3 linked regions of the Homo sapiens genome follow. The protein of the gene in region 1 purifies or fractionates together with the protein of each later gene. This does not show direct contact. Each region holds a gene or a part of one and is shown on either strand. Other genes may lie near its edges.

Evidence for each region.
Region 2: the proteins of ZNF677 (region 1) and DDX52 purify together in Homo sapiens (affinity purification with mass spectrometry; one large-scale study listed by BioGRID and IntAct). This does not show direct contact.
Region 3: the proteins of ZNF677 (region 1) and PHF3 purify together in Homo sapiens (affinity purification with mass spectrometry; one large-scale study listed by BioGRID and IntAct). This does not show direct contact.

Annotation. Positions count from the first base shown.
Region 1 is NC_000019.10:53,241,326-53,244,978, reverse strand, and holds part of ZNF677 (zinc finger protein 677), read left to right. Parts: intron 1-1,081; coding exon 1,082-1,235; coding exon of another isoform or gene 1,236-1,269; intron 1,270-2,538; coding exon of another isoform or gene 2,539-2,585; exon of another isoform or gene 2,586-2,648; coding exon of another isoform or gene 2,649-2,722; exon of another isoform or gene 2,723-3,113; coding exon of another isoform or gene 3,114-3,195; exon of another isoform or gene 3,196-3,653. UniProt on the Homo sapiens protein: May be involved in transcriptional regulation.
Region 2 is NC_000017.11:37,641,275-37,645,027, reverse strand, and holds the start of DDX52 (probable ATP-dependent RNA helicase DDX52), read left to right. Parts: upstream 1-1,581; 5' UTR 1,582-1,607; coding exon 1,608-1,694; exon of another isoform or gene 1,695-2,090; intron 2,091-2,719; coding exon 2,720-2,918; intron 2,919-3,753.
Region 3 is NC_000006.12:63,680,682-63,684,334, forward strand, and holds part of PHF3 (PHD finger protein 3), read left to right. Parts: intron 1-3,447; coding exon 3,448-3,653.

The sequences.
Region 1 (3,653 bases):
ACACTTGTCAAATATCAGTTGATTGTATATGTGTGAGTTTATTTCTGGGCTTTGTATTCTAGTACTTTTGTTTTGTGTGTCTATTTTATGCCAGTACCATACTGTTTTGATTACCATACCTTTGTAATATACTTTGAAATCAGGAAGTGTGATACTCCAGCTTTGATATTCTTGCTCAAAATTGCTGTGGCTCTTTTGGGTCTTTATAGTTCTATATGAATTTTAGGATTATTTCTTATATTTTTGTAAAAAGTGTCACTGTGATTTTGATAGGGATTGCATTGACTGTAGATTGCTTTGGATAATATGGACATTTTCATAGTATTAATTTTCTAAGTTCTTGAACATAGGATATCTTTCCATTTATTTGTTTTGTCTGCTTTAATTTCCTTCATTAGTATTTCATAGTTTGCAGCATGCAAGTCACTTACCTATTTGGGTAAGCTTATTTCATGTTAAAGTCACATGGGGAGTGACTGCTTAATGGGTACGGCATTTCTTTTGGAGTTGATAAAAATGTTTTTGAACTAGACAGAGGTGGTGGTGTATAACTTTGTGAATGTACTAAATGCCACTGAATTGTACTTTAAAATGGCTAATTTATTTGTTTTATTTTGAGGTGAAGTCTTGCTCTGTCTCCCTGACTGGGGTGCAGTGACATGATCACTGCCCACTGCAGTCTCCACCTCCCAGGTGCAAGTGATCCTCCCACCTCAGCCTTCTGAGTAGCTGGGACTACAGGCCCATTCCAGTGTGCCCAGCTAATTTTTTAAATTTTTTAGTAGAGGTGGAGTCTCACTTCGTTGTCCAGACTGTTTCAAACTCCTGAGCTCAAGCAGTCCTCCCACCTCAGCCTCTCAAGGTGCTGAAATTACAGGTGTGAGCCACTGCACCCAGCCTCAAATAGCTAATTTTATGTTATGTAATTTCATCTCAGTTTAAAAAAAATAAAATTAGGGATATATAAGTTGCTTGCATTAACTCACATAAATCAGTGAATATGTACACCTCTTTTCTGCCATTTTGTGTGAAAATAAGAAATTTTCCTGTGTCCACTTGGTGAAGTGTGTTTTTATTTCAGGGACTGTTTACATTCAAGGATGTGGCCATAGAATTCTCTCAAGAGGAGTGGGAGTGCCTGGACCCTGCCCAGAGGGCCTTGTACAGGGACGTGATGTTGGAGAACTACAGGAACCTGCTTTCTCTCGATGAGGATAACATCCCTCCAGAAGATGGTAACCACCCTTGTACATCTTTACATTTTTCCTTGTGAGTCTCTTGGGAGGCCCTGATGTGCTTGTCTGAATCCGATCCCTGTTCTAAAAGGGGAGATTGAAACTTTTTGATTGAGAGTGGAAAGGCTTCATAATGTAGCATATAGACTTTAAACTTCCCCTTTCTTCAGAAGTTCTGCGCATAATCAGGTTTGACGAGTGGTGGTTCCAGAATATCAGTACTTACAAAACCTTATGGAAAACGTTTTAAAGTGTCTGGTATCATGGTTTTATCCCTGTGCCTTTGATTCAGTAGTTTTTTCAGAGTCTGCATATTTAAAATAATCCCTAAGCATTCAGAAGAAGGCAGTCCGTTGACTAATTTATGAAATTGTTTTGGGAAATAGTTTTGCAGACCCATGTGTAATGTCCTCTCTTCGTAGCTGAACAAAGGGCTGGGAATGTATCCAGGAAAAGCACAGCATACCATGTTCCTTTTTTTCTTTATAAGTTGAAATCTTTCCTGAGCTGAATATTGTGTTCATTTTGGAGCACAGGAAAGAGTCCTAGACTATGGAAAGTGAAGTGAAAATAGGGAAAAAATCAGGTAGGTCGGAATGTGAGCACAAATAAGCGCTCAGATGGCCACAGAGTAAGCTACTCCATTGAGTATTGTTTGGGAAACTCTGCAAATGGGAAAGATCAGTGGGAAAACAAAAGTTTATTTCTTATGAGCTCTCAAAGCAAGGTCCACACCCGCTCCTACTGTCCCCCAACATACTGTTATTCAAATGTGTAAAAGGTTGAACTCCCACTCTCCCGTGATGCCCCAACTCATACAGACACAAAAGCAAAGGTGCTATCATGACCTACAATACTGTTTGGCCCCTCTGACCATTTTGGTCTCTTGGTTTTGAGAGGGACCGAAATGGCTGTTTTTAAGGACTCTCTTTTAGTGTATATAATTTCATCTGATGTGTGGTTTTCAGTCTATACAGATCAGAGCTGGGGCCTTTGTAGCCCTGGCTCCAGAACCTATTCAATTTCTATTCCTATTTCTTATACCTGCAAGAACTTTTCAGGAAAATGGGAAAACAGTGGCTCCCCCAAAATGTATCTGGGGTTCCCTGAAATTTGAAAGACTGTCGGTCTCTCTACTTGTTCAAGCCCCTTGGCCATTCCTTCAGTTCTGCTTTTGCCACATGTGTCTAAAGGGGAATGGGCAGGCTTTTGAGATTGTTACTCAGCATTAATGTAAAGACTTGACAGAGAGATCCTCTTTTTGATTGCCATTCCAAAATGGGAATATATCTCATTCTTTTAGGTTCTCACCTTGCAGCCTGTGGACAGAGCACACTGCCTCTTCCTTAGAATCCTACAAAATCCGACCCTTTTATTTTACTCCCGTACCTTTTATTTCTCTCCCTTTTCTAGCTTTCTACTCTATCCGGGAACTTAGGGAGACCTTAGTCTTCCTGATTCCATATTCTTCTAAGATTTGCCTCTGAAAGTTGCTTTTGAAATACACATTCCGGATGGGCGTGGTGCCTCACGCCTATAATCCCAGCACTTTGGGAGGCCGAGGTGGGCAGATCACCTGAGGTCGGGAGTTCGAGACCAGCCTGACTAACATGGAAAAACCCCGTCTCTACTAAAAATACAAAAATTAGCCGGGTGTGTTGGCGCATGCCTGTAATACCAGCTGCTCGGGAGGCTGAGGCAGGAGAGTTGCTTGAACCCGAGAGGCAGAGGTTGTGGTGAGCCGAGATCACGCCATTGCACTCCAGCCTGGGCAACAAGAGCAAAACTCCATCTCGAAAAAAAAAAAAAGAAAAAGAAAAGTACACATTCCTAGAGTCTGAAATTTCCTCTCTTTCTGCTGTGATAACCCACCAATAGGCGATGGACAACTTTTGGTGGACTCTCCCATGGAAGAGGTTTCCTTGGTGACAGAACATTCTTGAAAGAGAACATTAATTAATCTGTCACAGTATCATTCTGCTACATAGAGGTGCCTCTTGAAGCCACTGAGTAGAGTAGCCTGCATGTCCCAGTATGCTGAGAGAGAATCAGGACAGCCGGAGGGATAAGTGCTTCTGACCTTCTGGTTTCTGTGGAGTTTCCAGTGTCTCCCAAGGGCAGTGTGACAACGCTGGTTAGATATATGCTGATCATCCTCTTGGAGCCAGCAGTACAAGGTGTAGGAGTTTCTCCTGGGAAGAGCATTCTCCAAGTTCTCAACCTCATATCTGCGAACATGTTGACCAAACTGTTGCTCATACCACATTATTCATCCCATACGTGCAGTTGTACATTTTTCTTCAGTATGATTTTTATGCCTTTATTGAGGGAGCTTACAAAGTTGAATTAGGCATACATTTTTAAAGTTCAGTATAATTTGGTTAAGCCACTGACACTTTCATTTTGCCAATGTCATTG
Region 2 (3,753 bases), on another chromosome or scaffold:
TCACCTCACACCTGCTTTCCTTGATTGTAAAGGACTCACCCATACAATTTCAAGTATGTTTCATTCTCTTTGGTCAAATACATATAACTGAATTTTTATAAGTTAAATGCTTATATGGTACAACTCCTTTGTATCATTTATATGTTGATGACTTCCAAATTAATTTCTCTAGCCCTAATTTTTGTTCCTGAGCTTCAGATTCAGAACCAACTACCTACTTGGATGTCTCCACTTAAAGTCAACTAGGTAGGCATCTTAACACGTCCAAAACATAACAATTGATTCCATCCTCCGTATCTCACTTGTACCAGAAAGCCCTTCTTCTCTCAGGCTTTCTTAGCTCAGTAAATGGCATGCCATCTACTCAGCCAAAAAACTAGGAGTGATCTTTGATTCCTCCCTTTCTCTCACCTCTGCATAAAATCCGTCAGGTACGTTTAGCTCTACCTCCAAAATACATGCCAGATCTAATCCATTTATCTCTCTCAGCACAGATACCAACCTAGACAAGCCATGATCATCATTCTACTTTGACTAACCTGTTTCCACTCTTAGCTTTTCTATGGTCCATTCTCCAAATAGCCAGTGTAATCCTTTATGAAACATCCACGCATTCATTCACCAAAGTGCACAGAAACTGGGGATACATAACGAAGCAAAGTATATCCCTGTGCTCAGGGACTTACATTCCAGAAGAGGGAGAGGCAATAAGCAGTAAATAATTTCGTACAGATGTAATAAATATAAAAAATTAAATGTGATAAACTAAATCATGTTCTTCTCTCCATAAAAATTTTCAAATAGTTTCCCAAGGTGGAAGTCCAAATTCCTTACTATGACCTTGTTACAAGATTCTGTGAGATCTGGCTTCTGTTTGTCCCTCCAACCTTATCTGTACTACTCTATCAGACTGCAACTTGGCTCTAGTCGCACCGGCATTCTTTCTATTCCCTCAAGGTTCCAATTTTTTTCCCTTCAGCCACGTGTTTCCCCTATCTGGAATGCTGTTCCCAGATCTTGGACAGGTTGCTTCCTCTTAGCTCAAGTTTTCACTTCAACAGAGTGAATTTCACTAAGTCAGCTCCCTCATCATTTTCTCTATCAATTACACCTTTTTGTTTTATAGCACTTATTACTTTACAGAGATTTTGCTTATTTATTTGTTAACAATATCTGTTGTCCCTACTAAAATGTAAGCTTCGTAAGAAGAGGAATCTTAAGATGTTGTTTACTATAGTATCCCTCAAAGTCTAGAACAGTGCCCAACATAAGAGGATACTGATAAATATTTTTTAAAAGAATTTACACACGCCTGTAGTCCCAGCAGTTTGGGAGACCGAGATGGGAGGATCACTTGAGCCCAGGAGTTCGAGGCTGCGATTGCGCCACTGCGCTCCAGCCTGGGCGACAGAGAGAGACCTTGTTTCAAAAAAAAAAAAAAAAGATAAATAATGACGGAGTACACGATAATAAAATAGCCTCGTTTCTCACCCAGCCAGGCTCCGCCTACAGGAGCCAATTATGCTCACGCCCTCTTCCGACGCTGCCCGGGGCCTGGGAAGTAGTCTGCGCAGGCGCCGTAGAACTGTGGCGCTTTCTGGGTAAAGATGGACGTCCACGATCTCTTTCGCCGGCTCGGCGCGGGGGCCAAATTCGACACGAGACGCTTCTCGGCAGACGCAGCTCGATTCCAGGTACTGTGCCCAAGGGACCGAGGGCCGAGTAACTGAGAAGGAGCAGGAGCCCGGGAATGAACCCGCTGCTGGGGGAGGCCGGCGCACTTGGACACCCGTGGCCTGGCTCTCGCCACCCTTGGGGTATTTTGCTTCCTTTTGTGTTCGGCTTGCCTGCACGGCTGCTCGGTTCAAGCCTTTTGAATAAGCTCTTTAACTATCCTGTTGTAGACCTAGTTGGGCCTGGCACGGAAACCCTCTTTCCTCCCTCTTATTCAAAGCAAAGTTGGAATCCTCCTTTCAAAAGGAACTTTTTCTCCGAACCTAGAGGAAAGGAATTTCGAAAACAGAAACAACCAAAGATGGAGAAAACAGATTCTCTTACTATAGTCTCCCCAAGTTTGGCTTGGCATGCGTATAGTTGTACTGGGCGTGATTCTTTTTATTGCTTCAACCCCATGGCTTAAGTAACCAATGAGAAGAGCGATTAAGAAATGGGGGCTCTTACCTAGAGAAGTAGTGAGTGATACATCGGGGGAGGTCAATTGGGGCCCAATTCTGGAAAATCTTGAATGTCTACTTTGTTGTTTGGATGTGTATATGCGTGTGACATGTGTTTCTTCTTTCTCTAACTGGTGAGTATGAACTCTGGAGCCAGATTATCTGGGTCTAAATGCTAAGTCTGCCAGTTACTCATTTTTAGACCTACCTCAAGTTACTTAATTTCCGAATGCCTTGGTTTTCTCATTCGTAATACTGCTATTTACCTTATAGAGTTGTAAATGTGAAGCAATTTAATATGTATAAACATGCTTAGAAATCTGCTTGACATTTAGTAAGCATATATGTGTTCATTGCTAATATTAATTTGTTACTATTATGAGGTCAGAGAAGGTCTCTTCAGATTCCATTTGTCCAGACACCTGTTAGCTCGACAGATACTTGGTGAAAGGGTAGAAAAGATGAGGAGTCATTGAACAGTCTTGCTTGAATGAAAGCAATGGTATTCTGTCAGTAGGTTTCATTTTACATTTTTTGGGTTTTAGATAGGAAAAAGGAAATATGACTTTGATTCTTCGGAGGTGCTTCAGGGACTGGACTTTTTTGGAAACAAGAAGTCTGTCCCAGGTGTGTGTGGAGCATCACAAACACATCAGAAGCCCCAAAATGGAGAGAAAAAAGAAGAGAGCCTAACTGAAAGGAAGAGGGAGCAGAGCAAGAAAAAAAGGAAGACGATGACTTCAGGTTAGTGTTTGATTTCTGTCATGTTTTTTCTCTTTAATTTTTTTCAGTTATAAAAATAATACAGGCTTATGGCTACAAGTCAGACAATAAGGTCATTTGTCAGCTGATGGCACTCAGGTTGTTTCCAGGTATTTGTCATTAGAAATATTGTTACAGCAAAGGTAATTTTAAGTAAAGATATTTATACATAAATCCTTTTGTACAGGTACTGTTATTTCTGCAGAATACCATCCGAAAAGTAGCATCATATGGTGAAAGGGTATGTACCCTTTCTCTGAAAAATACTACAAAGTGACTTCCCAAGTCCTTGTCAGTGCTGAATATTATTGGTGTTAATTTTTTTGCCAAGCTAATGAATGAAACTTTTTTTTTTTGAGACAGAGTCTCACTCTGTCTCCAGGCTGGAGTGCAGTGGCGCGATCTCGGCTCACTGCAACCTCTGCCTCCTGGGTTCAAGCAATTCTCCTGCCTCAGCCTCCTGAGTAGCTGGGACTACAGGTGCGTGTCACCACGCCTAGCTAATTTTTGTATTTTTAGTAGAGATGGGGTTTCACCATGTTGGCCACGATGGCCTGGATCACTTGACCTCGTGATCCGCCCGCTTTGGCCCCCCAAAGTGCCGGGATTACAGGCCTGAACCACCGCGCCCTGCCTGAAACAATTTTATATTTTACTGATAACTGGTGAGGTCGAGCATTTTTTTTTTTTTGAGATGAGTCTCGCTTTGTTGCCCAGTCTGTGGTGCAGTGGTGCAATCTCGGCTCACTGCAAGCTCCGCCTCCTGGGTTCACGTCATTCTCCTGCCTCAGCCTCCCAAGTACCTGGGACTACAGGT
Region 3 (3,653 bases), on another chromosome or scaffold:
GTTGTTTAGTGTGTACATACCAGCAGTTATACTAAAACTGCTCTACCAGTTGTCTAAATCTACCCTAAAGATATTTGTGTATTTCAGGTATTCTGTCATATCCATTTTATTGAAAACACCTCTTGGAGCCTTCTGATCCCCTCTTATGTAGACAGACTCCTGTTAGTCCTATGAGCCTGATGCAAAGCTGTTCAGGGATCTCCCTTTACCATTTTTCTGGAAGTCTGTGCTTTGTGCTTTTGTTGTAGTTCCTATTTCCTCTTTCTGGATTCAATTTTTTTATTTTGGTGATGCACCTCTTCCAGTAGTTTTGTGAGAAAAAGGAGCTGTGAGATACACTTTTTAAACCTTGTATGTTTACCTTGTATTTAGTCTATTCTCATACTGGAATCATGGTCTGGTTGGATGTAAAATTCAAGGTTGGAAATCATTTTCCTTCAGAAATTCTGAAGGTGTTGCTCCATTTTTTTCTAACTTCAGGGTTGTTGAGAAGTTTATTTTGATGTGTGTGTGTAGGAGTGTATGTTATCTGATTTCTTCTGGAAGTTTGTGGAATCTTGCTCTTCAGCTTTGGTGTTTTGATATTTCATGATGATATGTATTGGTTTTGGTGTATTTTGTGTATGGAGCTCAAGACACTCAGTAGATCCTGTTAGTCTGAAAAATGTTATTGTTCAATTCCGGGAAAATTTTTCAAATTATTTCATTGTTAATTCCTCTCTTTATTTTGTTAGCTCTTGATTTCTGGAACCTTTATTATTTGTTACATAACAGGGACTGGTCCCTCTGTTTTCTTTATTTTGCCTACTTCCTACCTCTTTGTAATTTTTCTTTAACGTGCTTAAATTTTCTCATATTTATCCTCCAACTTTTCAGTCAAGTTTTGTACTTCTGATTCTTAAATGTTCTTTTTGTTGTTGTTTTGAGAATGGTCCTTTCTGTAGTGTTCTATTCATGTTTCATGGATGTAGTATCTTCTTTTGTCTTTATTAAGATACTAATGGCGTTTTAAACAGTTTTTGTCTCCTTTCATAGTTTCTGACTTCTCAATGTTGCATTATTTTAAAAAAAATGTTTAAAAAGGTTTTGGCCTCCATCTTTCCTAGATGCTCTCCTGAAATGTCTGACCCTTGATTATTGCTCATGTTTAAGGGTAGGGAACTAAAATTATGAAACTTCTAAGTGTGGGGATTGGGTTTTACCAGCTATGAGCGTCAGTGTATAGCAATCTGGCTGTACTGTTGTTTGGCAGAACCCTTCCTATCAGAATTTAGGTTATTTTCCATAACTTATTAGATTGCTAGCATATTATGGAAGCCTGTAAGGGAAACTGACTGGGGTTTCTCAGATTTCAGTATATACAAATTCACTTAATCTTACAAATTTCAATGTACTTTACAGCCAGTCTCAACTGTGCCTCATGTTCTTTAGCCTAGAAACCTTGCTTTACTATCTCCAGAGAATAAGCTACGAGTTTTGGCTCAGGACTAGGGAAGGGCAGTTGCCCAACAAATGGAGTAGGGGAAAGAGGGATCTAGAAATCTAACTGCTACTTTTAAAGAGCTTTCAGCCCTTCTAAGTGTTAAGCATCTGTCTTCATTCCCACTTTAGAATCATCTGGGACCACCAAGTCTTAAGACTTTTGAGGTGTTAATGGTGTTAGTTTTTGCCAACACTGCCAGCCTAGTGTTTTATTAATTACTTTTGGGTCTCTTATGTCAAATACTTGGTAATCATCTCTTGTTTGGTTTCCAAAATTTGCTGCTGGTTTTTCCTCTCTCGTTCTTCCTTGCCTTTTGGACTTTTCAAAAAATGTCCCGCTGTTATAGCTTCAGTAGGGTTTTGAGAAGTGAATAAATTTAGATCCATGTATTTATTTCATCATCTTTTCTTGATCTATGTTTTTAATACATTTTCAAAATCAGTTATTTGGTATATACGTGTGGCTTTGAGAAATGAAAAGAATAGAATAAACATTGTAGGAAAATAAAACTTTTTTGCCTATAGAATCAGGCTTCAAACTAAGGCAGGTAATATTTAGAGGAGAAAAAGTGACTTTAGCCTTTGCTTAATAAATTGCTTCCTATTGGAAAACCACTTTTTATCTGAAAATCCTTCACAGCTGAATATACTATTCTTTTGTCATTTTTAGCAACCGCTTGGGTGTTAAAAGATCTTTATTTATTAATGTGTAATAAGTGTTAAAATCCTTCATTTGTTTCATTTCAAGGATGAATAGAGCTGTAAATTACTATAATCTGTCTTTAAAGCTTTAAAGATCACCTAAATATTGAAACAAAGCTTTATTAAAATTTTAGTTATTTAAAAAAATTTTATAACTGAATATGTGATAAATAGTTCATAACCCACCAAGTAATTTTTAAAAGTTATTAAGTACTTAACCTAATACTCAGATACTTTGTTGTGTCCTATGGGAATTAGAAAGGGTCTCTAAGATAAGGATGACTATATAATTTTATTGTTCAAATTGGGCATACTTTTGAAAATGAAAGTGTGCTATTAATACTAGATCAGAACTACGAGCAACACCTGGACATTTACCTTTTTAAAGATTCTCACAGTTCAGTGATAAATGACAAATTCAGTTTGTGGGTTGTTTTTGTACTTACTGAATTATTTAGCTCTCTTTCTTTTTAGCTCTTTTCATTTTGTGTTTCTCCTTTCTCCTGATACAAGGGGGGGATGTATCAGAATAGGGAAATGAAACTCTTTTCATTTAATGGACTATTAGGAGCATTGTGTGGGAAGCTTTTAAATTTTCATACTTTCCTTATGATACATTTGCTTGGTTTAAGTCTTTTAAATTGTGTTTCTTTTTTGATGAGCTGTATGTGGTACTCTGTGTTGATATCATTTCTTAGGAATAGCTTTAATGCTAAAATGGTGACCTAAGGGAAGCACATTGATAAAGGAATTAGAGTCCGTTTGAGGCTGTATTTTGAAACTCGCACAGATCCTGGTTTGTGATAGGAGGTTTTTAGTTCAGGTTTCTTTAGCACTGGAATATATTTGGTTTTATATATTTAGAAATATTTAATGTTTAAAAATCCATGATGGTCTTGCTTTAATATGGGCATTAATGGTAAAGGAAGCTCATTTTACTTACGTCACTCCTAGGTTACTTTTTATGGAAAAGAGATTTGATGAAAACATTTCTTTTAATAAGGTATAATATTAGTCTGAATTTTTTAGAGGCTTTTCCCCCTGCTAGAATTCAGAGAACTTTGATAAATATAAAATTTGACATATGTTAAATTATATATATGTGTATATATATCATGTCACCATTATGAGTACTGTTCAATACATTTTTGTTGAGCAAATTATAGCTCAGAATAAAGAAGTGATATATTCTAAATTGTATTGAAATAAAAGCACATGACAAAATAGCTAAGTATTTTTATTTATTTTTTCCCCCTGTGATAGAACAAGTAAGAAGTTTGCGACAGAGCACTATTGCCAAGCGTTCAAATGCAGCACCATTAAGTAACACAAAAAAAGCATCTGGGAAGACTGTATCTACTGCTAAAGCAGGAGTGAAACAACCAGAAAGGAGTCAGGTTAAAGAAGAAGTATGTATGTCACTGAAACCTGAGTACCATAAGGAGAATAGAAGGTGCAGCCGAAATAGC